Linked DNA regions of Homo sapiens: regions 2 and 3 are each linked to region 1. Evidence: fine-mapped expression QTL. A gene starts in region 1. Each other region holds a variant in brackets. All regions are shown on one strand. Distances are from middle to middle.

Evidence for each region.
Region 2: its variant is fine-mapped to the expression of PPP3CB-AS1 in whole blood (INTERVAL, PIP 0.92).
Region 3: its variant is fine-mapped to the expression of PPP3CB-AS1 in unexposed skin (GTEx, PIP 0.96).

Annotation. Positions count from the first base shown.
Region 1 is chr10:73,491,459-73,501,380 of GRCh38, forward strand. PPP3CB-AS1 (PPP3CB antisense RNA 1) reads left to right here and starts at 4,294. Exons shown (of 5, transcript NR_132104.1): 1 at 4,294-4,359; 2 at 4,684-5,025; 3 at 8,137-8,229. PPP3CB (protein phosphatase 3 catalytic subunit beta) reads right to left here and starts at 4,566. Exons shown (of 14, transcript NM_021132.4): 1 at 4,347-4,566. The coding sequence starts at 4,431. It overlaps USP54 (ubiquitin specific peptidase 54), which reads right to left. Exons shown (of 24, transcript NM_001391956.1): 23 at 9,197-9,380; 24 at 6,080-7,730. The coding sequence ends at 7,171. RefSeq lists enhancers at 3,633-4,092, 4,583-4,772 and a silencer at 4,153-4,502.
Region 2 is chr10:73,633,534-73,643,455 of GRCh38, forward strand. It overlaps MYOZ1 (myozenin 1), which reads right to left and starts at 7,941. Exons shown (of 6, transcript NM_021245.4): 1 at 7,878-7,941; 2 at 6,412-6,502; 3 at 4,211-4,389; 4 at 951-1,200; 5 at 367-532. The coding sequence starts at 6,484. The variant GA/G (reference allele first, on the strand shown) is at 4,849.
Region 3 is chr10:73,375,973-73,385,894 of GRCh38, forward strand. ANXA7 (annexin A7) reads right to left here. Exons shown (of 13, transcript NM_001156.5): 8 at 7,605-7,718; 9 at 7,203-7,373; 10 at 4,059-4,229; 11 at 3,907-3,982; 12 at 2,939-3,051; 13 at 1-245. The coding sequence ends at 123. Among named protein-coding and RNA genes, the nearest start is that of CFAP70, 22 kb to the left of the region's middle. The variant G/A (reference allele first, on the strand shown) is at 5,014.

The sequences.
Region 1 (9,922 bases):
CGCCTGGCCTGAAGATTTATTTTAGTATGGTTAACAGTAATGAGAGTGGAAAGTAAAAGAAAAATAATTTCTAGTTCTTTTTACACAGATAAGTCCACAAAATAGACTTTGTAAACAAAAATTAAAATTCAAGCTGCTTTAAAATATAATGAAATAGAACTAGCAAGAAACACTGAAGTAGCTATGTCACACCAAGGCTATATGGGTTATCTGAAAATAAGTAATCTGGCTAGGCACGGTGGCTCATGCCTATAATCCCAGCATTTTGGGAGGCCAGGGTGGGTGGATCACCTGAGGTCAGGAGATCGAGACCAGCCTGACCAACATGGAGAAATGTCGTCTCTACTAAAAATACAAAATTAGCCGGGCGTGGTGGCACATGCCTGTAATCCCAGCTACTTGGGAGGTTGAGGCAGGAGAATCGTTTGAACCCGGGAGGTGGAGGTTGCAGTGAGCCGAGATTGCGCCATTGCACTCCAGTCTAGGCAAGAAGAGCGAAACTCCATCTCAAAAATAAATAAATAAATAAATAAATAAATAAACAAAAAGTAATCCTCCTAAAGGAAAGCTACTAGAAAACACTTTAGCCAAATGACTTCAGATTTATAAGCAGGGCAACTGGCAACAGAATCCAAATGAATTCTAACGTTGTCAATCAGAAATACTTTAGCTTAAAAAAAATTAAAACACATAAATTCAGCATTTTGGTTCAATCTGAAAGTCTGATAATTTGAGGTTACTATAACCCATGAAATAAAATAATGTTAAGAAAATGACTCACATTGTAGGTGCTAAAATGAACATATGCCCAATACTGACAATGCTCTCTAAGTAAAAAGGTGAATTTTTTATTAATACTAACAGTCTTGATAATCTCAAGAGACAATCCAGCTTTACAAATCTAGAACCTGGTATACAAAGCAAAACGTACATTTTTTAAGTATCTGGGGAAAAAAGGAGGTATCTGGGCAATTCAGGTCAAGTAAACTTTGTGGGGAGGAGGGAAAGCAATATATATAAATTCAGGATTTTGTGCTTCAATTACCTATACCAGCTTTGCTGATGTGGTAAGAAAGCACACATGCAGATACGGTTAGATATTTTTCCTAATTTTTTTCCACTTTCTTATTTCCTACATAGCTAAAGAATGCTTAATAGAATATAATTAAAAGGGTATATACCATCTTGCTTAATCAGGTGGGTTAGATCAACTTTCAAACAGGGGAAGAATTTGACTTGAGCCAGCAGCTGGAGTAGGCTCAGAACTGAATTTAATCAACCAAAAACCTAATGACCCATAATCAATGACATGGAATTACCACTAATAATTTTAGTGACAAGCTCATCACATTTACTCATGAATCACCTACAGTATTCCAAGCTCCCAAACTTCACAAAAAGTGAATTTCAGGTATCTGATCTTAAACACAGAAAGACCTATACACCCTTAAAAACCTACATGACCATAAAATGTAGGCCTTATGACTACAAGCATGGAGTATAAAATTTTGACACTAAGAAGTTCCAGGGAGGCAGGCCGGGCGCGGTGGCTCACGCCTGTAATCCCAACACTTTGGGAGGCCACGGTGGGAGGATCATGAGGTCAGGAGTTTGAGACCAGCCTGGCCAACATGGTGAAACCCCGTCTCTGCTAAAAAATACAAAAAATTAACCGGGCATGGTGGCGCGCACCTATAATCCCAGCTACTCGGGAGGCTGAGGCAGGAGAATCGCTTGAACCCAGGAGGCAGAGGTTGCAGTGAGTAGAGATCGCGCCACTGCACTCCACTTGGGCAACAAGAGTGAAACTCCGTCTCAAAAAAAAAAAAAAAATTCCAGGGAGAAAAAGACTACTTGCATTCAATGCCAACAGACAGTCTCCATAATATCACTACTATGAAAATGTATCGATACAAAACTACCACCACATTGTGGACTTAAAAGAAATTTGGATTTTAACAAGTTAAACTTAAGCTGAACTCACATCATTTATCATCAGGCAACCAGTATTCTCTAATATCAGGTATCACATTATAGTATAATTACTGAATAAAAGACAAGGAAGAATCCTGAAGATGAAATTTAAAAGTGAATTTCTGGATCTGTAAGAAAGGTGAATTTCCCAGTAAATGCAGGAGACTCCATGAGCAGTGCAAATTAGTCTGTTACACACCATTTTAAAACATATAATCCATACAGGAATTCCAACTGGTTAACAAATTCCATAAAGAAATGAAAGTTGTCTCTATGAAGAGGGCACAATGAAGCACCAGAAATATGATAACCATAAGCTTTATTTAACTATAATTTTCTATATTAACAAGCTCCTTTCCTATTTATCTAAATCAAATGGCTTTTATTCCACACCAATAACCTGCAAATATGACTGCCTTGGACTCACAACTCACCCCTAAGGAATCTGCCTTATGTTTGGAATCTTATTTTCACTGCATTAAAGCAGTACAGAAAAAACATTACCATATATATGACAAGGAATAAGAAGATTCACAAACGTAAGGATAGCATAAACTCATTGTTCAGGAATGTGATTGGTTACCCCATCTAACAGTCTGGTGAAAAGTGCCCAGGGAAATGAACACACAACACAGAAATACAGTCAGAAAATGAAGAGGTAGCCAATGTCCCGTTCCCACCCCCACAAAACTCCAGGATTTCTTGATAGAATGAATGTCTGCATTACTATTTTTTTTTTAAGATTTCTCTGTATTAAGGATTCCATAAACTCGTTATTCAGCTCATTCCAATGCCTGGCCCAACTGGATATACTACTAACTTAAGCCTAGGTGCAAATCAGTGTTTTGTTTTTGTTTTTGTTTTTGTTTTTGGAGACAGGGTCTGGCTCTGTCGTCCAGGTTGGAGCACACTGGCGCAAATCTCGGCTCACTGCAACTTCTGCCTCTCGGGCTCCAGTGATTCTCGTGCCTCAGCCTCCCGATCCGCTGGGACTACAGGGGCGCGCCACCATGCCCGGCTAATTTTTATTTTTTGTATTTTTGGTAGAGAAAAGGTTTCGCCATGTTGCCCAGGCTGGTCTCCAACTCCTGAGTTCAAGCGATCCGCCTGCCTCAGCATCCGAAAGTGCTGGGATTACAGATGTGAGCCACCACGCCAGGCCAAATTAGTATTATTCTTTTAAGAACCGAAGAAGGCTCAGGTTGAAAATTTTTAATTAAAAAAAAAAAAGAAAAAAGGTTTCCTTGTTTTTAAATATTTTAATGGAAACATATGAGTCAGATTTCAAAAAGTAGGCTAACGGTGTTTAAATACTGTGCCAGTGTATTTGAGAAGCTGAATGAAAACAAAAGTACCTATATTTTAAAAATAAATACAATACAAATAAGGAAAAGTTCATTCTACGATTTCAATTTATCAATCAAGCTACATGGTAAAGAGAATCATTTCAATTGTTTTTCACCTCCACAGCAGTGTTTGAGGTTGGTAGGCTCTCCCAGGAAGCTTGGAATCTTAAGCAACTCTCAATTAGCCCTCAATTTCTCTATTTTAAATTAATCTGCTGACCTGTTGTGGGTAAACATCCATAAATTCTGCCCTGGCTGAGAAACATTTAACTTTTTCGTCTAGGATGAATGTGTGGGTGTGTGTTTGTAAGGGAGGGGTAACTCCTTTTGACCAAAGTGTTGATGGTTTTCTAAGTAAATACTTGCTATCCACAAGAATTTTTTTTTTCGTTTATGCTGCTTTTTCTCCCTTTCTGCACTATAAAGGCTGGCCTTCCAATTCCTGCCCCGACCCTTCACCGTGATCCAATCCCACAAGGTTCCCCTAATTTCTGCTCCGGGTGGCACCTGACGGCCAAAAGTGAACCCCTGCGGTTGTCGCCAGCTAGACGCGGATAGGGCGGACGACTGTCACCGGGGAGCAGGCGTGGGCCAAAGCCGAGGTGATTTCTGACTGCTCACTGGCGGGCCTCGCGTGGCTGAAGGTCTCCGAGCCCCTCGGTTCGCCCCGGCAAGCCAGAAGTGCAGCTGTCGCGGGGCAGGAAGCTAATCGCGGCCCCTGCGCCGCTTTGACAGGCCGAGTGAAGAGAAAACGGGCTCACTGCAGCTAACAGCCTCACCCCTTGGGCTAGGAAGCCACGGAAGCAAAACCTCCGCCCCGGCCTGAAAGCAACCGGGAGACCGCGGAACCACTGCCACCGACTCAGCCCTGCCCAGCAGGGGCCCGCCCAGGGGCCACTCCCCAAGGGAGGCAGCCAGTCACTCGCCCGCCCTTCCGGGCCCACTCCCGAGGGGACGGTCTCCCGCCCGCCCTCACACACAGCTAGCTCTTCAGGCCAGGCCCCCAGGGTTTCGTCCACCTCTCACCTTTGACGACGCGGTCAGCCCCGGGAGGGGGCGGCGGGGGCGGGGGTGGGGGCGGTGCAGCCCGGGCCGGCTCCGGGGCGGCCATGCTGGGCCCGGGGCTCGGCTAGGCTCTGGGCCGGGCGGGGTTGGGGGCGGGGGCGGCGGCTACCAGAGCCAAGCGGCGGCGCCGCCGGGGAACATGGCGGACCCTCTTTCCCTACAGAGGGGCTAAGACCGGCATGCACTGCGCGTGCGGGGGTGGGGGCGGGGTAGGCTCTAGGGACTTGGGCAAAATTACTGAAGCTAGGAGAGAAACAGGACGAGGCCAAGGGATCAGGTTAAAATTCTTTGCATGCAGAATGAAGAATGAGGAGGTGCTGCGATCGAACGACTGCGAGGAAACACACCCGCTCTCATGGCATTCCCAGTAAACTGAGAAGACGTGATTAAACCTCAGGATCTCCTACTAATAGAGAAATGTATAACGATTTAGCTACCAGATCTGAATACTGAAGGGTTGGTAGGGGACCAGAGAATAGAGGAAGCATTGTAGGTTCTAGAGTGGAGAAGGGACCATCCAAAATGGAGTTTGAAAGAGAATTCTGGCCTTTGTGTTTAGAGTCTGGAATTGTCAAGAGTCTGAAAGCACAGAATAAGACTGCAGCTAGAGCAATTTAGGCGCCATAGTTTGTCAAAACAGGTAAGGGGAATAAAGGGGATGACACCAAGAGATGTGCAAAGAATCTGAAGAATTCACCTGAAAAGGATACAACCTCCTCCTGGAAGGCAGAGGAGTAAATAGGGAATTGGAAATTAATTCCTTATTTCTGCACATGCACAGAATCTGGGCCCAGGTGACTTATGGAACCTTTATAGAGACCACGGTGACTGACACTCATGGGAAAGGGGGTAGAGGGGCAAGAACTGACTGTTCATCAAAAATTATTAGATGAGTGTGTCCACGACACCAGGAGATATGTTGAATCATGGACAGGGACCAGCATATCCACTAAGCTCTATATATCTTGATGGTGCAGGATCCAAGTGGGATGGAACAACCAATTCCTGCCCATCCTCCTGCTCAATAATACATGTGCTCAGAATCTGTTCATAATGCATGGTGGTAAGTAAGTAGTAGTCCGAAGGTCCAAGGAGTACCTTTCTACCTCTTCTTTGTGTCAATTTCTATCCTGAGACCCCAGGAAAAGAGGAAGGGAAAGACCCAACAATGGATTTTTTCCAAAAAGGGAACCCACAAGCTATTTTTTAGAGGGAAGAGTCTCGGGAGTGAGGCACAGGTGAAAATGGATCTTTCTGGCATGGAAGGGCCATAACACCACAGGGGAAGGGAAAGGGAGAGGCCCCCACGGAAGGAGAGGAAGGAAGGGACAGGAGGCACGTCACAAACTTATAAGATAGAGGGAAGGCACCTGGAGTACATTGATCAGGAGTGAGTCTGTAAGAAGAGCTTGAATCCCCAGAAAATCTTCCTAAGGAGGGGAGGAAGGAAGTGTATAATGTACTGAGTACTGAATGCTCTGTCAGGAAAGGGATGGGAAACATCCTAGCAGCAATACTAGAAAGGAAAGGCACCCTATTTTAGGACCCATTGATTCCCACCTTGATTGTATATCCTTCAACTCGTCTCTGGCTCCTCACTTCCACTCAGTCAAAAGCCACTTCATATATTTATCCAGACTTCCAGCCCCAATACAAAGAAAGCAAGAGCATACAAAGGGAAGAATGACAAGGAATTAAATAGAACTGTCTTATAGATTTATTAATGAAAAATACTTTACAAAAACAGTATGTTTGGCCTAAAATAGTTCAGCTGACTCTGAGGGTTTACATTGACGACTGAGCAAGTGGCAATAATGGCTGTGTTATTGAGGACAGAAGGCTGTGTTAGTGTGCCTGACTCCATCTGTTCAAAAGGGTGAATGTTATGTTGGCAGCTCCGCATTCTAGGCCTAAGGTTTGGAGGGCACAGGGAATGCTGACAGGCCATAATACCTGGGCAGGGGGGCTGCCCTGATGATGTCATCAGAACCATGACCACAGGGCTACATGTCCCCCCAAGGATGGGAGACAGGGAAGACAAAGGGTCAGGTAATAGGGATAGGTGGATAAAACAAAGAGTAGAAGTTGGGAGTATAGTAGGGAACAGAGGATGAGGGCTCAGGTGGAGGTGGGGACATAAAGCATCCAGGAATAAAATGTGACCTTAAAATCCTAAGGAATGGCTAGTATCCAGAGTAATACCATGGATTCATCTTTAAAGTGGCTCAGATAAAACCCTTAAACAGCAGCTGCTTCCTTTTGCTAGGGGGAATGGAAGTTGGAATTTCAAATATCCCCTCCCAAAGAATCACATCTTTTTAGAGGTTCCTGACACCCTTAGGAGAACCCACCAATTCTATGTTGAGATGAGAATAGCACAACCATGGCAGTGATGCAGGGTACCAACGCTGCCACAGTAGTTTATTTTGTTGTTGTTTTGTTTTGTTTTTTGAGATGGAGTCTCACTCTATTGCCAAGCTGGAGTGCAGTGGTGCGATCTCGGCTCACTGCAACCTCTGCCTCCCGGGTTCAAGCAATTCTCCTGCCTCAGCCTTCCGAGTAGTTGGGACTACAGGCACGCACCGTCACGCCTGGCTAATTTTTTGTATTTTGGTAGAGACGGGGTTTCACCATGTTGGCCAGGATGGTCTCAATCTCCTGACCTCGTGATCCACCCGCCTCAGCCTCCCAAAGTGCTGGGATTACAGGTGTGAGCCACCGCGCCCGGCCCACAGTACAGTTTTACAAAGAAAGGTGTAGCTCCAGGAAAGGAAAGGAATAACCTTTACCATTGACTGTGCTGCAGGACTCTAGCCCTGATCTGCTCTCTTCTGGGAGCATCTGATAGAACAAACAGAAACCCCTCTCCCACTGTTCTCCTGTGTCCAGAGTGGGAGGCATAACTGCTTTGCCTCCAGTCATCATCTGGGGGCATATCTACTCTTCGAGGACCAGGGGTTCGGGACCCTGGAACAGGATCTGAATTCCAAGCTGACCTCAGGGGTACATGAAGACTGCTAGATGGTGGGTACACAGGATGAACAATGGGAGGGTGGGAGGGTGAATGGAAAAGATCACTCCAGGACTGAGTGTGAGGAACCTGAAGGCCCTTGCTTCTTTCTGGTAGTGTGGCAGTGTAGGTTAGTTGAGGATTGCACCCTGGAGTAGTCAGGAATCTGGTCCCAATATGCTGGTTGGTCTCTGACCAGGGTGCCCAGGAGTTGTCTGTTCTGGAGCGATGGGGGAGGCTCTGGTAGTTCAAAGTCCTTCCTGTGTACTTGGCCCCTTGGGAAGTTTCACCCCTGTCACACATAGCCAGAAACTGCTGGACACTCCTTGAAGTTCCTGGGGAAAGAAAAGAAACCCAAAGACTGAGCATCTTCAGAAAACCATTCTCCTTCCCAGAGAGCCATGCCTAGCTGTGTAGCCCAATTCCCTACTCCTCCAAGAGCATACATACAAGGGAAAGAATGAATCAAGCTGTGCTTTTGATTCCATTTCTTAAAATTCTTAATATACATCAAAATCAAATCTCATACCTCCAACCTGGGCAAATGAAACAGTCTCATGGATGTTGCCATACCTCTACCTCCCTCCACTATAATCTCTCATCCACTATACACACACCTACAAAAGAAGGGCTCCCTAATATATAGCAATATATGGCAAACGTATACTCCCTTTGTGATGACTATACTCCTAGAGCCACCATACCAAAACCTCACGCAGCTTTTCTTTTTAAAAAAAATAGAGACGGGATCTCACTGTGTTGCCCAGGCTGGTCTCGAACTGCTGGACTCAAGTCATCCTCCCATCTTGGCCTCCCAAAGTGCTGGAATTACAGGTGTGAGACGCTGTGCCTTGCTTTTTTTTTGTTTCTCCAACTTTTCTTAAAATGTTACCTTCACTTCAGTTAAGCTGCCTTTGTTTGATCTCTGAGATCTAATGTGGAATGCCTTTTCTTATACATTTATTCAACTTTGGCACTCTTGGTATCTTGGGCTGATAATTCTTTGTTGGGGTTGGGGAGAGACTGCCCTGTGCATTGTGTGATTTATTAATGAAAAATACTTTGCAAAAACAGTATGTTTGGCCTAAAATAGTTCAGCTGACTCTGAGGGTTTACAACAACAACTGAGCAAGTGACAATAATGGCTGTGCTGTTGAGGACATCCCTGGCCTCTACCCACTAGATACCGGTGGTACATCCCCTTTATCCATTGAGAACCACTGCCTCAAGCTTGTACATCCAGTGCATGAGGGGAAAAAAGAGAACATCTCACTCGGAAGGTCAAAGAAAGCCAAAATGATATTGCCCACCTTCCCCACAATTGTCTGGGTCTGTACACATGGTGTGGGTACTCCATGTAAAGGGTCTTTCCAATTCTCCCACTCATTCCTTATCTTCCTAGACCATCCCTCAGCTGAGACTCAGAGGATAGAAGGGGAGAAAACTAGCTCAGAGGATAGAAGGAGAGATGACCATTTCTGTTCTGGGGATGTCCCAAAGACTGGGTATTAACTCCCCTTTGTCAGTTAAAAGCTTATTCTGTCATGACTGAAGCAGGTCATTTTCGTAAGTAGACAGACTCTAGGGGTGCTGGTCTAAACCCTTGGTCTAAGAATCATGGTGCCCAACAAATGATTTAATATTTATCTAGATAAATGCACGACTTTGAAGCAGTAATTCATATCTTCACACCACTCCACCTTGGGATACCCCCCTCCCCATAGGTATACTGATTTGACCCTTGGAGGCCCCTGAAAAGGTACCAAATTCTGGCATATAATATTAGATTTGGGGGAGTTACCTGGGAGTCTATTGGGCTCCCCTGCCATGGTGGGCATCAGGACATCTGGGGACAGGAACTGTGGTTGGGGAAGGTAGAGTTGGGGACCGAGGAGAAACACAGAAGGGTCATGGATGACAGGGAGGGAAGAGGAGCTGGAACAACGGTGCCCGGTTTCCAAAGGCTTCCTCACGTTTGATGAATCCTTATAATGAGACAAGACAAAAAAACATAGAGATGAGGATTAACACAAAGCAGGATGTAGTTGGGTAAACACAGTGAGGCAAGCAAAGGGAAATGGAGGGAACCAGAGCACAAACATGCCTACATGCCTTGTTCTGGAACAGGACCCAATTTACTCAGTTGCTCTCCCTGCTAGCCCTCTAAGAAACTGCAAACTTCAGATCCTTATCCCTTAACCAGTCTTCCTCATATCCCTCACCTTCCCAACCCTATCATTCAGGTCTTTAGCAAACTCCTTAATGCTAACAGTAGAATTAGAGAGATTGAGATAGAAATTTAAAAATAAAAACGAAATATGAGAAATTCAGAAAGCCTGAGAGAATGAGAAAAAAAAATCCTTCACTTATTCTAAGTACTGGGAATGAAACTATATATGTTTAAATGTAGAATCAAGAACTCTACCCCATCTTCTCTCCTGTCACTGCTACACATTCCACAGCTTCCTCTTTTGCCTGTCAAGTTTGTATTTACTGATGCTAATGTCCTGCTCTACTCCCTATTAGT
Region 2 (9,922 bases), 140 kb after region 1:
GCCTGGGCGATATAGCGAGACCCCATTCTCCACAAAAAGGAAGCAAAAAAAAGACAAAAAATAAATAAGTGTAACGTTCAAAGCAACCCAGGCTCAGAGGTAGAGTGATTTTCCCATGCCTACACAGCTAATAAATGACCATTGAGCTAGAATTCAAATCCTGCCTCCCAGCAAATTTTTTCCTTCATCACACTGCTATGATGAAGCTGAGATAGAGTGAAAAGAGCAGGGCCTTTGATTAGGACCCCCATATCCCTGCCATCTCTCCTTAGCCTCCTTCTGAAACATTTGAATTAGTCTCCATCCTAACTAAAGACACAGTGCCTCACACTAGAATGCATCTGGTTCCTTCCTCACCACCCCTACCTGTTGAAGGACTTATATTTGGGAAGTTCAGCTTTGGCCCCATAGGCCAGCAGGTCAATGCCAAGTTCCATTTTTTGCTGGGGGTCAACCCCCATGGCTCGCTCCCATGGGGAAATATAGGTCTTGAACACAGTGATATGTTTTCCTTCTCCGCCTGCCTGGTCTCCTGGTAGCCATGGGAGAGAAAATTCAGTCAAATAATAGCATTTAGTAGCCAATGAAAGGTAATCCCACGCCCCTACACTAGGGAAATTGCAAGAGCCAGGGACTAAAGATATAATATCCTGGTAATTGTATAAGGTTTGTGGCATAATGATAGTCTGTGGGCAGATCTGTGACTGAATCCGAAAAGCCAGGAAAGTAACTGAAAAACAAGGCTTCTGGGTAGAATAGACACATCTCTATATACTCCTGGACCCAGGTAATTCACCAAGATATTTATGATATTTAAACTGATATTATTATATTTAATATTAAGATATTTAAACTGACCTCCTCTGCTCCCCACACTCAGCGTAGACATCATTCCTGGGACAACTCTGCTCTAGGGACCAAACACATTACTCTTGGGTGAGTGTACTTGCCTGATCCTGTCTCACCAACCCCTGCTGTGCCAGCAGCTCCTCCTCTGCCAGCCTGGCCCGCGGGACCACCTGTACCCCCAGCTCCAGACCCAGAGCCCAGATGGTGCTGCTGATCAGAGCCATACTGTCCGGCAGAGCCACTGCCCCCTGCCTGGCTGCCGCCTCTGCCGTTGCTCTTGCTGTATGAGAATCCCTGACCAGCTGTGCCCAGCTGTCCCCCCACTGTTGGAAGGAACTTCTGGAAGTGATCCTGAAAAGAAGACAAAGTGAGGGGAAGGTTAGCAATGGGTATGGAAAATATACAAAAACAGAGGTATGTTTAGCAAAGGCAGAAATAGTGGCTAACCAGAAGACCCTGAATTTTCTGATATTTCCCCCTCCAGTTGATGGGTAGTACATGGGCTGACTAAGAGAATTAAACTCTTCTTTTTGTTTGTTTGATTTTTTGTGGTTTTTTTTAGACAGAGTTTCGCCCTTGTTGCCCAGGCTGGAGTGTGATGGCACGATCTCGGCTCACCGCAACCTCAGCCTTCCAGGTTCAAGCAATTCCCAGCCTCAGCCTCCCGAGTAGCTGGGATTACAGGCATGCACCATCACACCCGGCTAATTTGATATATTTTTAGTAGAGGTGGGGTTTCTGCACGTTGGTCCGGCTGGTCTCAAACTCCGACCTCAGATGATCCACCCACCTCGGCCTCCCAAAGTGCCGGGATTACAGGCGTTAGCCACCGCACCCAGCCCGAATTAAACTCTTCTTAAGAGGTAGGACTCCCTTGGCTCGTTTCCTCCAGTTATACCTAGGGTAAGGGCAGCGTGTTCTCCACACTCCCCTTTCTCATCCTTAACAAGTCAAAAAAGACCAACACGCCTGCCCAGCTTTAAAAAAAAAAAATGAAAAAAAATTCTTTTGCTTTTTGAGACAGAATCTGGCTCTGTCACCCAGGTTGGAGTGCAGTGACACAATCTCGGCTCACTGCAACCTCCACCTCCCTGGCTCAGGCAATCCTCCCACCTCAGCCTCTCAAGTAGCTGGGACTACTGGCATGCTACCACACCCAGCTAAATTTTGTATTTTTTTTTTTCCTAGAGACAGGGTTTGCCATGTGCCCAGGCTGGTCTCAAACTCCTGGGCTCAAGTGATCCATCTGCCTCAGCCTCCCAAAGTGCTGAGATAACAGGCATGAGCTGTGTCCAGCCCCAACTAAAATTTGGGAGGATGGGGTTGCCATGGAGCACCCAGTCTTAATTACAAGGACTAGAGAAATTCTGCCCCCTCCCTTCCTCAGCTTGTCCAACAGTCAGAACTCTCTTCTCTCTCCTTCTTTCTCTTCCTCTCTCCTCTTGGTGCCTGTTGGACCTCACTGGTGACAGTGACACTGTAGCAGGTGGGGGGAAGTGTGGCCAAAAGGGCAACATTAGATGCAAACCCAAAGCCTAAAAATAACCCCACCAACTTCTTCAGGAGGCTCTCCTGGCCATCCCACCATGTACACCCCAATGCTCCACCCAGTGTAACCAGACCCAGGCAGAGAAGAGTGCTTTTGGCCTCCTAAAGTTAGATATGAGCAGCTCAGCACTTTTACTCTGCTCCTATATGAGGACCAATGACAGACACTTCTGCCCCCGGCCCCATGCAGGCATCTATTTCCACTCTCCCCCAGCCACTCAGAGAGGGTGGAGGAGGAAGAAAGGAAATGGAGAAGGCCCTTCTTCCTCAGCTATACCATCCTGTGCCTGGCCCCTCTCCAGTCTCCTCTTTCTTTGGAGAAGGAGCCTGACTAGAATATATCTTGAAGGACCGTTTCAGTCTCCACACCTGGGGCTTCTTAGGGAATAGACTGACCCTTTAAATGGAAGAATGGCTCAAATGGGAGGTGGCTGTAAAAACTCAATTAACTCTTTCTAGGGTTGCCAGATTTAGCAAATCAAATATAGGATACCACTTAAATTTGAATTTCAGATGCACAACAAATTTTTATTTTTTTTTTTTAGATGGGTTCTCTGTCACCCAGGCTGGAGTGCAGTGGTGTGAACATGGCTCATGTTCATGCATCCTCTACCTTCCAGGCTCAAGCCATCCTCCCACCTCACCCTCCAGAGTAGCTGGGATTACAGGTGTGCGCCACCAGACCCAGCTAACTTTTTAATTTTTTGTAGAAACAGAGTCTTGCCATGTTGCCCAGGCTGGTCTCCAACTCCTGGACTCAAGCAGTCCTCTTGCCTTGGCATCCCAAAGTGCTGGGATTACAGGTGTGAGCTACCACACTTGACCCAAATACTTTTTTAGTATAGATATGCCTCCAAATATTGCTTGGGACTTACTTATACTAAAAAAATTATTCATTTGCATCTGAAATTCAAATTTAAGTGGACATCCTGTATTTTTATTTTAATGTCCCAAATATTGCATGGGACATATTTAAAAAAGAATTCATTGTGCATCTGAAACTCAAATTTAATTGTATATTCTGTATTTTAAAATTTCAATTTTATTCTTTGCCTTATCTTCTTCCTTTTTTCTTTTTTCTTTCTTTTTTTTTTTTTTTTGAGACAGAGTTTCACTCTTGTTGCCCAGGCTGGAGTGCAGTGGCACAATCTGGGCTCACTGCAACTCCACCTCCTGGGTTCAAGTGATTCTCCTGCCTCAGCCTCCTGAGTACCTGGGATCACAGGAACCCACGACCACGCCCAGCTAATTTTTTGTATTTTTAGTAGAGATGGGGGTTTCACCATGTTGGCCAGGCTGGTCTCAAACTCCTGACCTCAGGTGACCCACCTGCCTCGGCCTCCCAAAGTGCTGGGATTACAGGTGTGAGCCACCATGCCTGGCTGCCTTATCTTCTTTCTAAAATTTTTTTAAATTTTTATCTTTATGTCCCAAATATTGCATGGAGCATACTTCACTAAAAAATTATTCATTGTGTATCTCAACTTCAAAATACAAGACTGGACTGCCCCACTGGGCATCCTGTGTTTTATCTGGCAATCTATCTTTAACACTTACCTTTACTGGGAAGGAATTTTCTCCCTAAGGGTGTGGTATTCTCCAACCCTTCAGTGGCTCTATGATGAAAACTGGGTTTCAGAGGTGGGCTGTAACTCACCCTGGAGCTGTTGCGGGCTCAATATATCTGGGGGTTTAACAAATTTATAAATTTTCAGGGAGGGGATGTTGACTGCATTTTGGAGGTTCAGGGCCTACTAACAAGCTGTCAGAACAGGCACCAGGCTTTGAGATAGTGATAAAGTTCCAGACTCACCATTGAGCTGTCAGAGAAAACATCAGGGTGGTTCTCATAAATAAACTTCTCCACCCTCATCTGCCGCAGTTTGAACATCTTGGAGCCCCGGTTGGTAAGCAGCGACAGTTCCTCCAACATCACATCCCTTGGGACACTGATCTTTTTGCCCAGGTTCAAGCCTGAGCTCTCCTGTCCACCTTTCAGGGAGGCAAAGAAGAAGAATCAAGGGAAAGAGGAAAGTAGGGTTTTCTGGGCTCAGAATGCAGACCTCATCCACAACTAAGTGTGTATGTGTGTCCTGGCAGAGGTCATTTAGGGGAACAAATGCTGTCTAGTTTGTGAGGGATTTTGATTTCCTGGGACTTGGAGAGAATGCATGGGAACTGGGGTGCACTGTGGAGATAATGGGAATACTAGAGTGGAGAGGCCAATGGGGTAAAAGAGGTACGGGCATGGGGTACAGAGCAAAAGGAGTAAAGGAACATCATAGATGGAGGCCATTGGAGAAACCATGGCATCAGGAAAAACCCAGAGGCCAATCTTGTGTGGAGTCCAAATACAGATGCCATATATATATATATATATATATTTGTTTTTATTTTTTATTCTTTTTTTTCATTTTTTTGAGACAGAGTCCTGCTCTATCATCCAGGCTG[GA/G]GTGGAATGGCGCGATCTCAGCTCACTGCAGCCTCCGCCTCCCAGGTTCAAGCAATTCTCCTGCCTCAGCCTCCCAGGTCGCTGGGATTGCAGGCCTGCACCACCATCCCTGGCTGATTTTTATATTTTTTGGTAGGGATGGGGTTTCACCATGTTGGCCAGGCTGGTCGCAAACTCCTGAGCTCAACTGACCTACCAGCCACGGCCTCCCAAAATGCTGGGATGACAGGCGTGAGCCGTGGCGCCCAGCCTACATTTTATTTATTTATTTATTTATTTATTTATTTATTTATTTATTTATTGAGTCAGAGACTTGCTCTGTCTCCCAGGCTGAAGTGCAATGGCGCGATTGCAGCTCACTGCAACCTCCATCTCCTGGGTTCAAGTGATTCTCCTCCCTCAGTCTCCCAAGTAGCCGGGATTACAGGCACCCGGCACCATGCCCAGTTAATTTTTCTATTTTTGTAGAGACAGGGTTTCACCATGTTGGCCGGGCTGGTCTTGAACTTCTGACCTCAGATGATTGGCCCACCTCAGCCTCCCAAAGTGCTGGGATTACAGGCATGAGCCACCACGCCTGGACTTTTTTTTTTTTTTTTTTTTTAATGGAAATGAGGTCTCATTATGTTGTCCAGGCTGGTCTTGAACTCCTGGGCTCAAGTGGTCCTCTCACCTCAGCCTCCCAAAGTGCTGCGATTACAGGTATGAGACACAGCCCCAGCCCTATTTGTATTATTTATTTTGAGACAAAATAAATATATCTTAGGATGAACTCTGTCACCCAGGCTGGAGGGTAGCGTCGCAATCATGGCTCACGGCAGCCTCCACCTCCCGGGTTCAAGCGATCGTCCCACCTCAGCCTCTGGAGTAGCTGGGACTCTAGGCACATGCCACTACACCTGGCTAATTTTTGTACTTTTTGTAGAGACGAGGTTTTACCATGTGCCTAGGCCAGTCTCAAACCCCTGAGTTCAAGCGATCCACCAGCCTTGGCCTCCCAAAGTTCTGGGATTACAGGCGTGAGCCACTGCACCTGGCCCAGACTTCTGTCTTAACTACTTTCCCTTTTCTTTCCCTCAGTGAGCTCTGGCTCCAAAGAGTCTCTAGGTATTGAAGAGCTCTTCACATGCATGCACCCCTGCCCACCCCCAGGAAACATGCCTGTGCAGTTTTCCATTTTAAGTACTTACACAAGCTCCCTAGCTCTGGGGAAAGAAGTAAGGGAAATTAACCACTTATTGAGACCTGAGTCTGTGCCAGTCTCCATTATATTTTCTTCCTCAAATATACCTCACTGACTCATGGGTCCTGTGGTCCTGGACCTGTGCAGGTAACATGGCAGGGTATTGTCTCAGATTATGAAGTGAAAAGGGTAGAAGGTGTTGAATCTTTTCTCTCTTTCTCCTTACCCTTCTTAATCTTCCCTCTCCCACTCCCCATCACCCGCCTTCCCACCACTTAATTTCTCTTGTTTGTTCACCCTAAGATATATATTTCTGGGACTCTTGGTTTAGGGATGCTCTTAAGAAGTCCCACACTAGGGAGATGCAAACATGTCCTACCTCCAGTGAGTTCCATGATCAGCTTGCTGGATTTCCTCTTCTTATTAGGGGCCGGGGTTCCTGAGAGCGGCATTGTGGAGGTGGATTCAGCCTGGACAGGGTGGGAAGGAGGAGTTGGTGGATGGACAGGGACTGGGAAGAGTGAGTGTCTGTAGGAGAGCAGCACTTCTTAACCTGGGTTTAAGGGCTTGAGGGGACAAAAAAATTTTTTTTTCTTTTTTAGAGACAGGATCTCACTCTGTCGCCCAGGCTGGAGTGCAATGGCACAATCATGCCTCACTGCAGCCTCAACCTCCCTGGGCTCAGGTGATCCTCCAACTTCAGCCTCCCAAGTAGCTGGGACTATAGGTGCGCACCACCGTGCCTGGCTAATTTTTGTATTTTTTGTAGAAATGTGGTTTTGCCATGTTGCCCAGGCTGGTCTCAAACTCCTGGGCTCAAGCAGTCCTCCTGCCTCCCAAAGTGCTGAGATTACAGGGGTGAGCCACTTCACCTGACCCAGATTTTCAAAGAAGCATGTATTTCCCCAAAAGGTGAAAACTTGCGCTTTAGGGCTTCTCTTTTCTTGGGATACAGGACAGGAAGTATAGATGCACACCAGCCCCTGTTGTCTACCAACCTGTTGTGAGCTGTTTTTCATAGAGTCAGTGCAGGAATTAGGAACATAGCTAGGTGTGGGGAGTGTTTAAAAAACAATAACACAAGCAGGGCAATGCACCCAGGTTTCATTGGCTTGGCATGATTTGAAGTTTTTATTTGCACTGGGATATCAGACTGGGGCTGTGATTCCAGGCTCTGGTCTCTCCTCAGTCTTCCCCCAGTCCCCAGGAGGACAGAGAAATATTCTGCCAGGGTTGAGGAGATTCAGCCAAAAACACTCTCCATAGGAAGGAGAGGTTGTTGCTCCTTCATCAGGCCAGCTGGAACATGGCCTGGGAAGTCATGGCCCTGCTCCTGCAATCACTCCCGCCACAGACCCCAGAGTGGAGGCAGGTGTGGAACTGGGAAGGGTAGGGAGCATTCAAATCCCGACACGTCAATTCAGCAATATCATAGCAGTGGGGAATTGAGGTGGGGCAGAAACATAGTAATAGGATCTGGCAATGGAAAGGGACAAACTGGGATAAGATGGACTCCAATCCCTTCTTAAGAGAAGTTGGCACTCAGTGAAATGCTGTCCTCTTCTAAGTCCTGTCTCAAAAAATACATCTGCAACTCTACTGACTTAGTGGGGTCTCCCTTCCCATTCTTCCAGTGCCTCCCCCGACATCTCCATTCCCCCCAACCTCCTGGGCCCCTCTCCTTCCAACTCTCCTTCCCCTCTCCTTCCAACTGGACAGCTGGGAGCTGAGCATAGATGAGGAGAGGGGAGACTCCCCCAGGATCAAGAATCACAATTGTAGACACAGACACAGAAGTCAACACAGTGGGCTCCAGCCTTTCTAACGATAGAGCTGGAGACTTACCGGCTGCTCGGGCAGTGGTCAGCTCTCCCTGGGGTCCAGCAGCTTTGGAGGACTGAGCTGCTGTGACCGGAGAACACGAGCTGGGCAGGCGTGGGGGCAGCACTGGCAGTGGGGGAGGGAAGTTGGTTATTAATAGAGATGATGAGCGCAAGCAGCTCAAATGGCACAGGGGGTACTGAGACCCTGGAACCAAGATCCCTCCCTCCTTGCCCGGAGGCTCAGGAAGGAGGGAAAAGGCCTTTGGGATTCTCCCACTGAACTGTCTGAGCCAGGGATCAGTCTGCCCAGGGACTCCCCTTCACATTGCACCTAGAGCCTGAGATCCAAAGAAGCACTTAGGGAGAAACTGAAGACTGAGAGGGAGACAGGAAGTAGACAGCAAGTATTGGATAGGAATTCAGTCAGAGAGAGAGAGTCTGGGGAACATGCCCTGAGGGCCACACAGAGCCAATCCAGGGCAGAGTGGAGAGACCTGTGGGTGTATTTGGAGCAGGGAGGGCTTAAAGTGCTATATTTGGGGACAAAAAGGGAAGTCTTCACAGTGGAACTGCTCTTTTAAAGTTCCTGGATAGGTTGGTCTTTTCTCGGTAAGGGCTAGATCTTGGCAGGTTAAGGGACCAAATTAACTAAACCCAGTACCTCCTACAAAGGAATGATGTGGGGAAGACTTGACAATTATTCTGTCTGCCTCACTCCCTATTCTTTCCTCTTGAGCTCTGGCAGTTTTAATAAAAGACAAACACTTGGATCTGCATTTTTTTTTTTTTTTTTTTGAGATGGAGTTTCGCTCTTTTTGCCCAGGCTGGAGTGCAGTGGTGCGATCTCGGCTCACTGCAACCTCCACCTCCTGGGTTCAAGCAATTCTCCTGCCTCAGCCTACTGAGTAGCTGGGATTACAGGTGTCCACCACCATGCCCGGCTAATTGTTGTATTTTTAGTAGAGACGGGGTTTCACCACGTTGGCCAGGCTGGTCTCAAACTCCTGACCTCAGGTGATCCACCCACATTGGCCTCGCAAAATGTTGGAATTACAGGCGTGAGCCACCGCCAGGATCTGGTCTCTAAGGAGTTATTCTCTAGCCACCACGCCCAGCCAGGATCTGCCTTTTAACCTCCATTTGCTGTTGAGATGCTCAGTTCAACCTGCTGTGCGGGATAGACATCGATGTCTCCCTGAGAAGCACATATAGGCTCTCTGAGGTTTCTTTTCTTCTTCTTTTTTTTTTTTTTTTTTGAGACGGAGTCTCGCTCTGTTGCCCAGGCTGGAGTGCAGTGGCGCAATCTCGGCTCACTGCAAGCTCCACCTCCCAGGTTCACGCCATTCTCCTGCCTCAGCCTCCCGAGTAGCTGGGACTACAGGCGCCCACCAACACGCCCGGCTAAATTTTTTTTTGTATTTTTAGTAGAGATGGGGTTTCACCGTGTTAGCCAGGATAGTCTCGATCTCCTGACCTCGTGATCCATCCATCTCAGCCTCCCGAAGTGCTGGGATTACAGGCTCTCTGAGGTTTCTACTTGAGATTTCCTGCAAAGGGAGCACATACCACATAGGATCTGGACTGTGCCATTTGTACTGTTCCAGCGGAGTCTCTGGGCAGGGCCACAGGCTTGAAAGCCCCTTTGGGGAAAGCCTATCATTTCCCCAGGCCCTTCTTCAGTAGCTGCATGATCTTCCTCCACCTTCTGCTTAGATTCTGGAACCAGTTGCTGCAGCACTTCTGCTGCAGCCACCACAACCCTGTTGCTGCTACCTGAGGAAGTGGCTTTATTTATTTATTTATTTATTTGAGACAGGGTCTCACTCTGTTGCCTGTGCTGAAGTGCAGTGGCACAATTTTGGCTCACTGCAACCTCAGCCTCCCCAGGCTCAGGTAATCCTTCGACCTCAGCCTCCCAGGTAGCTAGGGCTGCTGGTACATGCCACCACGCCCAGCTAATTTTCATATGTTTTGTAGAGACAGGGTTTCACTATGTTTCCCAGGCTGGTCTCAAACACCTGGGCTCAAGCAATCCTCCTGTCTTAGCCTCCCAAAGTGCTAGGATTA
Region 3 (9,922 bases), 120 kb before region 1:
ACGGTCCTTGACAGAAAGCTCTTTCGGTTAGCTGATGTTTGATATTGCTGCATGCAGGTCATTGCTCTGAAGGATAAGCTATGAATAGAAATTTTTTTTCATTAAAAAAAAAAAAATCCCTCCTACTGGCCCACAATAGCCAGAAGAAGTCTTCGGTAATCTCCACTCGTGTCACCTGCAATCATTGTGCCCAGAGTCTTCTGATACATCTGAGCGAACATCTGTTTTATTTGTACAAGGTCAATCTGCATAAGAAATAATATTTCTGTCAGAAAAACATCTGTGACAACTGACATTTCTTAAAATTCTTTTTAAATAATAAGATCTTAATAATAATCAAAACTTGGGGGGGAAAACACCAAGTGACTGACATTTTATGGCTGGCACTCATACCAATGCTAGCACTACCCAATGAAGGTCTGATTCACAGCTCTGTAAAATACTTGGTCAGGGTAGTACTAGTTTCATCTATTATTCCAAAGATATTAGTCATTTAAAAACATTTGATAGGATGGCTATTATCAAAACCAAAAAAATAGTAAGTATTGGCAAGGATGCCATGAAATGGGAACACTTGTACACAGGTTGATGGAAAAGTAAAAGGGTGCAGCTGCTGTGGAAACTAATATGGTTAATTCCTCAAAGCAAAACAAAAACACTTCCAAAGAATTACAATATGACCTAGAAATTCCACTTCTGGGTATATTCAAAATAAGTGAAAGTAGACTTGAACAGATATTTGTACATCCATGTTCATAGCAGCATTATTCAGGCAGAAACAAACCAAGTGTCACAGATGAATTAAAAAAAAAACCAAAAGGTGGGATACACGTACAATAGACTATTTAATTACTCAGTCTCAAAAGGAAGGAAATTCTGACATGCTATAACATGAATAAACCTTGAGGACGCTATGCTAAGTAAAAGACAACACTCACAAAAAGACAAATATTGTATGATTCCACCAATATGACGTACCTAGAGTAGTCAAACACAGGCACAGAAAGTCACATGGTTTGTTGCCAGCAGTTGGGAGAAAGGAGAATGGGGAGTTACTGTTTAAGGAGTATGGATTTTCAGTTTTGCAAGTTGAAAAAACATCTGAAGGTGAATGGTAATGATGGTTGCATAACAATGTGAATGTACTTACTGCTACTTAAAAATGGTAAATTTTTATGTTATGTATATTTTATCACAACTTAAAACATCCTGCTTTGAAAATTTAAGTTAAAGAACAAAGTTTTTTTCAAAATACCATATTCTGGTTGTTTTCTTTAAAAATAATCTACCTTCTTTAGTATAATTTAGGGTTTTTGGCCGGGTGTGGTGGCTCATGCCTATAATCCCAGCACTTTGGGAGGCCGAGGCAGACGGATCATCAGGTCAGGAGTTCGAGACCAGCCTGACCAACATGGTGAAACCCAGTCTCTACTAAAAACACAAAAAAATTAGCCAGGCATGGTGGCACGCACCTGTAATCCCAGCTACTCAGGAGGCTGAGGCAGGAGAATCACTTGAACCCGGGAGGCAGAGGTTGCAGTAAGCCGAGATTATGCCACTGTATTTCAGCCTGGGTGACAGAGCGAGACTCCATCTCAAAAAAAAAAAAAAAAAAAAAAAAAAAAACACGCAATAATAATAATAATTTAGGGTATTTTTTTGACACAGGGTCTCTGTCACCAAGGCTGGAGTGTAGTGGTGCGATCACGGCTCACTGCAGCCTTGACCTTCCAGGCTCAGGTGATCCTTCCACCTCAACATTCTGGGTAGCTGGGACTACCATGCCGGGGGGTGGGTGTGGGTGTGTGTGTGTGTGTGTGTGTGTGTGTATTTTTTGTATAAATAGGTTTCACCGTGTGTGTGTGTGTGTGTGTGTGTGTATTTTTTGTATAAATAGGTTTCACCATGTTGCCCAGGCTACCACGCCCCGGCGTGTGTGTGTGTGTGTGTGTGTGTGTGCGCGCGCGTGTGTTTTTTGTAGAAATAGGTTTCACCATGTTGCCCAGGCTGGTCTCAAACTCCTGGGCTCAAGCAATCCTCCCGCCTTGGCCTCCCAAACTGCTGAGATTACAGGAGTAAGCCACGACACCCCGCCATGTTTTCTTTCAATTAAAAGTTCAGGCCAGGCGTGGTGGCTCACGCCTGTGATCCCAGCACTTTGGGAGGCCGAGGCAGGTGGATCACTTGAGGTCAGGAGTTCGAGACCAGCCTGGCCAACATGGTGAAACCCCATCTCTACCAAAAAAATACAAAAACTTAGCTGGGCATGGTGGCGCACACCTGTAGTCCCAGCTACTCGAGAGGCTGAGGTGACAGAATTGCTTGAACCCAGGAAGTGGAGGTTGCAGTGAGCTGAGATCGTGCCACTGCACTCCAGTCTGGGTGACAGAGTGAGACCATGTCTCAAAAAAAAAAAAAAAAAAAAAAAATTCAAATGTCATTTCTTCTGAGAAAAAAAATTTTTTGTAAGTGGAGTAAATATATAAAGTACAATTTTTAAAAATGAGGCTATACTTGAGACAATTATGAATATTTTAAAAATTGTTTTATTATTAATAAAGGATGCTAAATTTAAATAATGTTGATATCCACTAGGATTAATCTACATAGGCCTTTCATCTAATTTTTATATAAGCAAAATGAAAATCGAAAGACAAATGTCTAACTTCCCATAAATTTGTATTCTCCATTGACGTTCTCAAGTTGTAAAATCTGTTAGTATTATCTTCATTAGGGTAGAGTGGCCTATTTCACTAATGCAAGCTTCTCCCACAGCATGAGGAAAGTGAATTTTCTGTTCTTTATACCACCTCTTTTAGGTGGCAAAGAGAGCTCTTTCTTATCATTTTTGAGGGACTGACAACCAACTGGGGAACTTTTAAGAAATCAACATTGAACATCAAGTAAGACCCGACAAAAAGAGAGAGGCCTGCCTCACCTCACTTCGAGTGACCACAATCCGGACCAGGGTGGAGTCATCTGTGCCAGCACCTTTCATAGCATAGTAGAGCCTCTCAGCAAAGAAGGCAGGGCGGTTCAGGGCACACTGCACTGCAAGTTAGAGATGGTTGAGACATGGAATCATGATCTCACAAGAAGTGTACCCCTCCAGCTTCATTTATCACTTATAGCCTGCCTTTGATTATTTTCTCTGTAATCATCACAGAAACATGGGGTGAGTTAAGAGTGTTCAGATGCTCTCCTTGATTTTTTTTGAGACAGGTTCTCACTCTGTCATCCAGCCTAGAGTGCAGTGGTGCAATCATGGCTGACTGTAGCCTCCCAGACTCAGGTGATCCTCCCACCTCAGCCTTCTGAGTAGCTGGGACTACAAGTGTGAGCTACTGCCCCTGGCCCAACATTCCATTGTTAATACCAAAGTGTTACTAATACTCCCCTTAGTCCTAATATCCATGAGAATGAAACTTTCACTTTGTTAGACATCTGTGTATTAGACCACCAGAAACTGGTTAACTTCAAAAAGGAAATGAGTCTCACTGGGCTGAGTACCTGAAATATCTGTTTTGAGGACTCAAACTGCTTCGTGGTGACACTGTGAGTTCCTCAGGACTTTCCCTTTCTCTTTAAAGGAAGTGCTACAACTATCAGGTATTCTGGCACAGTTATCAAGACAGGCCTACAGATGAAGGCCAAATAATCCCCAAACAGCCCTGTTTGATCACAGAACTACCATTCATAGGAAATTGTATGTAAAAACACAGGACTGTTTCTGGGGGCTTATCCAATAAAGAAAACAAACAACAAAAAACAAACCCCAAAGGATTAGATCAGCTACTGCCTAAGCAGATTCCACGTGGACTATATTATCAACATTTAATGGGAACAACTATTCAAAGCTCCCACTCATTTAAAAAGAAAATAAAGCAAAGCACAAAAATATCTTACAGATGGTCTTCAAACCACTTTCTACATATCCGGAAAACTCACGGCTCACACTGCTTAACAAGTCTCGATTAGCCATCTGCAAACAAAATTAAAGGGTTAAATATTTTTGTATCTTACAGCAGAAGCCAAATCTTCAAAAGAAAAGCTCATACCCTAGAATAAGCCTCCATGGTAGCTCTCAGCTGAGGAAAGCTTCTTGTGGCAAGGATCATGTTAAAGCAAGATTCATCGGTCCCTAGTCTCCCCTCACCAGCTTGATAGAGACGCTGAGCATCTTCCTGAGCCATTTGGTGGTTTATACTCTGGTTCTCATCACGATTTCCCTGCAAAAGAGAAAGGCAGGAATTGGAAGAAATAAATAATAGTTCTACTAAATTTTTTTTTTCCAATCTAGTTCACTTTTGGATTTAAAGAGACTATTTCTTTTTTTTTTGAGATAGGGTCTTGCTCTGTCACTCAGGCTGGAGTGCAGTATCAACCTCCTAGGCTCAAGTGATCCTTCCACCTCAGCCTCCCAGATAGCTGGGACTACAGGCACAAACGACCATGCCTGGTTAATTTTTTTATTTTTTGTAGAGACAGCATGTCTCACTATGTTGCCCAGGTGCTGGTCTCTAACTCCTGGGCTTAAGTGATCCTCCTGCCTTAGCCTCCTAAAGTGCTGGGATTATAGATGTAAGCCACTGGGCCTGGCCTAAAGAGATAATTTATTAAAGATTAATCCATAATGTCTGTCATGCATATGCTTCATTTCTATGCATGGAAATATAACTAGTAATTTATTATACTGTCAACTGGATTTTATAATATAAGATCACGGTTTAATGAGGTTATGTTAAAAATGAGGGCTTTTGGGAGCTAAATTAAACCCAAAATGTTTAAACAAAAATATCTCTACTAGGAGATATTAACTACCACTCAAATGAAGAAACAGCTCTCTTAGCTGGAATTTAAGATCAATATGCACTGTACTGAGTTCTACTTTTTATTCATTCATGCGACTAAGAGACATTAAGCACTTTCTTTGTGTCAGGCACTGTGTTAAGCGGTAGGGACACAGGAGAGACAGGGTCTCTGCCCTCAAGAAATTTAACTCTAGGGCAGGAG[G/A]GAGGGAGGATATAATATGGAGGCTTCATAAACTTTCTTTTCTTCATCTGAGTATAATATTTTTTTTTAAGAGACACGATTTCACTATGTTGCCCAGGCTGGGGTGCAATGGCTATTTGCAGACATGATCATAGCCTCAAACTCCTGGGTTCAAGTGATCCTCCTACCTCAGCCTCCAGAGTAGCTGGGACTATAAGCTCACACCACCACACTCAGCCATCGAATTATAATCTTAATATGTAAGTATTTACCATAAATACACGCATAAAAATGACACATAAGCTTTACAGAAGCAGCTACAAATAACTCATGTTCTGTTAGACTGTGCCTATTTGTATACCACACTCTTCCCTGGAATAGGAAGAAAGGAAGGAGGAAGGAAGAGTTTAAGCTTAATGAGCAGTTGGTTTCTCTCAAAAACAGAAAGACAAACCCAAACAAGAAAAGGCTGCCTTTTAGAGTCTCAGGGACCATCTTTGGAATAAGATGGAAAAATCCTCCTTGAAGCTGAAGAACTGTCTTCTGAGCAACTGGCACAAGGAATACGTAGAGGCACATTCTACATGGGCGACTGAATATAACACAGGAAAAGGTACTCACAAAAAATTTCCCAGATTATTGCCTTTGGATTCACACACACTTTCTCAGGAAGTTACTCCTCTACTCATGCCCTGGAAAAGGTAGGGCTGGGCCTTGAACTCTGCATAAAGAGAGACTCAGCACCTCATGTAAAATCTTAATAGCCATTTTTTAGCATTGTCTGTTTTCCTTCTTGTTTCTTTTAAATCCTAACCTACTGCCCTCCTGTTACTCTGATTTAGGTAAATTCAATTTCCTTCAACCCATTTACTTTGCTTTCTCATTTCCATATCCACTATCCTTTCCACAGCTACCTCCCTTTTTTTTTTTTTAGATGGAGTTTTGCTCTTGTTACCCAGGCTGGAGTGCAATGGCACAATCTCAGCTCACTGCAACCTCTGCCTCCCGGGTTCAAGCGATTCTGCTGCCTCAGCCTCCCAGGTAGCTGGGATTACAGGTGCCACCACTCCTGGCTAATTTTTTGTATTTAGTAGAGATGGAGTTTCACCATGTTGGTCAGGCTGGTCTCAAACTCCTGACCTCAGGTGATCCACCCGCCTCAGCCTCCCAAAGTACTGGGATTACAGACATGAACCACCACACCCAGCCCCTCCCTTGGCTCTTAAGAGCCCCTCCTCTCCTTTAGATCCCTCCAGATGGTCCAATCTTGTGCACTAGCACAATAGGCAATAACTCTTGATATTGAATCAGCATGCTAGTCATTTACATAATCTCTTTCAAATACACCTTCATCATCTAAGTGTGCTTCTTTTCTTTTTTTCTTTTCTTTTTTTTAAGGACAGGATCTCACTCTATTGCCCAGGCTGGAATGCAGTGGTGCGATCACAGTTCACTGCAGCCTCAATCTCCTGGGCTCAAGTGATCCTCCCACTGAACTTCCTGAATAGCTGGCACTACAGGCACATACCACCATGTTCGGCTAATTTTTAAAAATATTTTTTATAGAGATGGTTTCTTGCTATGGTACCCAAGCTGGCTTCAAACTCCTGGCCTCAAGCAATCCTCCTGCCTTGGCCTCCAAAAGTGCTGGAATTACAGGTGTGAGGCACAATGTCTGGCCCTAAGTGTGTTTCTAATGCCATTCCAAATACCCTATTTGGAGTATTTTCTGTCAATTCTCCAGCACACCTGGGGAATCAAAATAAAGAAGGTGCTAATCACAGTTATTACTGGGAACCCTAAAACATTTTTCTGCATTTCTGGGTCTCCTCACATAGTCCTCACTTCCTGTAGCACCTCTATGGCAGTCCTGCACATCTTCACTTGATGGTGGGGCATAATGGGCAGGATAGTGATAAGCTCAAATGTACAGTTTCATCCCCATCCCAGCCACAGAGCCTCGAATTGGTTTCTGATTCCATACAACCTTAGAGGTTAAATCTCTAATTCCTTACAAAAGCCAGATTTACAGGAATAAATCTCAATAGTAACTACAAAGAAATCTGTACACTGGTTTCTGTGTTGTCCCTCTTAAAGATGGCAATATTGCAAGGTGGCTAAATATTAAAAGGAATAAAGAATGCTCACTGGCAAAAGGCTTTTAAAGTATGTTCCCTCTATCAACGCACAAGCATTCATACTATACTCACCTGGCACATGGACACAAGTAAACGTTCAAAATGTCCTGATGTATCTGACCTAATGTCCTTTTCAAGGTCTCGTCCAAATTCTGACTGATAACATCTGACAATTTCTCGGATTTCCTGATTTGTTCTTGTGCACAAAATCTCAATCAATACACGTTCCTGAGTTCCTGCTCCCTACATGAAATGAAGGGAAGATTATACAAAGAAAAATGAAATTTCTGCAAGTAATTAAATCTTCGTCAAATATTTCTTTGTTCTGTAGAACTAAAAACTATATATTCAGATGGATGATGTGAAATAAAGAATTGCTTTAATTACCACTGTAAATTCAGAACTGTCATAATTTGTACGGTTTTACATATGAAATAGGACAAAATATTCATAATAAATGACATATAGTAGTACCTGCATTGCTTTCCGTAAGCTCCAGGCATCGTAATACGTAGGAGGCATGAAGAGGGCCAGGATCAGTTCTTCCATATTTCCACTTAACTCTGATTTGAGATCTTTGATTAAATCCTATTTAATCACAAATACAAGCTAAGTATATGTGTTCTCCAAATTTTGTCACTTAAATCTTTTAAGGAAAATACAAAAAAAGAAATGGAATTGCTTTATAAAAACCTAAATTTGAAAGCTGAATGTTAATATACTAAGAAGTAAATAAAGGCCAGGCGCGGTGGCTCATGCCTGTAATCCCAGCACTTTGGGAGGTCAAGGCAGGAGGATCATGAGGTCAGGAGATCAAGACCATCCTGGTTAACACGGTGAAACCCTGTCTCTACTAAAAACACAAAAAATTAACCGGGAGTGGTGGCAGGCACCTGTAGTCCCAGGTCCTCGGGAGGCTGACACAAGAGAACAGCGTGAACCTGGGAGGCAGAGCTTGCAGTGAGCTGAGATCGCACCACTGCACTCCAGCCTGGGCGACAGAGCAAGACTCCGTCTCAAAAAAAAAAATAAATAAATAGAAATAAAAAAGAAGTAAATAAATTTAAAGTCTGTTACACTTACACATTTATTACACTCAAGCAGATCTATTTTATTCATTCTATCAATAAACATTTAATAAAATCTTATTCCACTCTACCAGGTACAAAAACAAGGGATATATGAAACAAAGAATTATTCAAACTGACAAAATGATAAACAGATATTTACTTAGTAAAAGGAACTGTTCTTGGTTCTATGAGGAAGTAGAAACCATTATCATCTTGTTCTTATTTGTTTTTTGTTGTTATTTTTTTTGAGACAGAGTCTCGCTCTGTGGCCCAGGCTGGAATGCAGTGGTGTGATCTCGGCTAACTGCAACCTCTGCCTCCTGGGTTCAAGCGCTTCTCCTTCCTCAGCCCCCTGAGTAGCTGGGACTACAGGCACATCCCACCACGCCAGGCTAATTTTTGTATTTTTAGTAGAGATGGGGTTTCACATGTTGGCCAGGCTGGTCTTGAATGCCTGACCCCAAGTGATACACCCGCCTTGGCCTCCCGAAGTGCTGGCATTACACACATGAACCACTGTGCCCAGCCGATATTGTTCTTATTTGGAAAGATACACATCTAAAAAAAAAATAATGTAAGGTAACCTGTACTCTAGCACTGGGTAAGTAGCATAGAAATAAGTAATAGAGAAAGTTGAAACAGAAAAAGTTCAAAGTCAGCTGGAGAGCTCAGAGAAAAATGTAAAAATTAGCATGCAAAGACGAAGGAGAAAGGTATTTCAGGTAAGAAGGAACACCACCAAGGAACAGAGAAGGGGTTCCCAGCCTTGACTCTTCATTACATTCATTGTGGAGCTTTAAAAAAAAAAAGAAAAACATTGATGTCCAGGACTAAGACTCAGAGATTCTGTGTATTTTTAAGTTTTAAAGGAAATTACGATGTTCAGTTAAGGTTGAGAATTACTCGTATAGAGCCAAGAATGAGCAAAGCTTGTTCAATGGAACAATAAGACAACCGGTTTTGCTACAGAGGAAGGTTTTCATAATAGATGAGTTAAAACAAAGTTGTAACTAAATCTTGGATTATTACACTGAATGCCAAGCTAAAGAATATGGACTTGATTCTGTTTGCTGGGAGGAACCACTGGAAACTTTTCATGCAAGAAAATGGCACTGATGTAGCAACAATATTCAGAATGGATGATGGTGACAAAGAAGCTATAGATGAAAACATTTAGGCTACTGGAATATTTAGTTAAGAGGTAATAAAGTCTTGGACTTGAATGGTAACAATGGAAATGAGAAGGAACAAAGTAGACAAAAGAAACATTTTAAAGGGCCATTTTATAGATTAGATCAATAAAAACTAGTAAATAACCAACTGCTAGGACAAAGCATACAGAATACTCCCTATGATAAAAGAAAAACATGGACTCAAAGATGACTATAGCAGGCTAGAAAAACAGTGTTTTACTAATTAGGAAGTTAAGAAAAGAGGTGGCTAGTGGTACGGAAATTAGATTGTTAGTTTTAATTCTAAAGCAATATATAAAAAAACTTGAGACAGCATTGTGCAGACTAGATAAAAAATTCATAACATGGAAAATATCTTTGTGAGAATAGTGAGTCTGATGTTGAAGCTTAAGGAGATCTAGGGTTTGTGTTGCATAATCAGTCACTGGGCTGGGCAGACAGGGAAAGGCAAAATAGAATAAGCAAGGTGGGACCAATCAATGGACCACTACCCCATTCTGAGAAATATAAACTAGATGCAGAGAACATT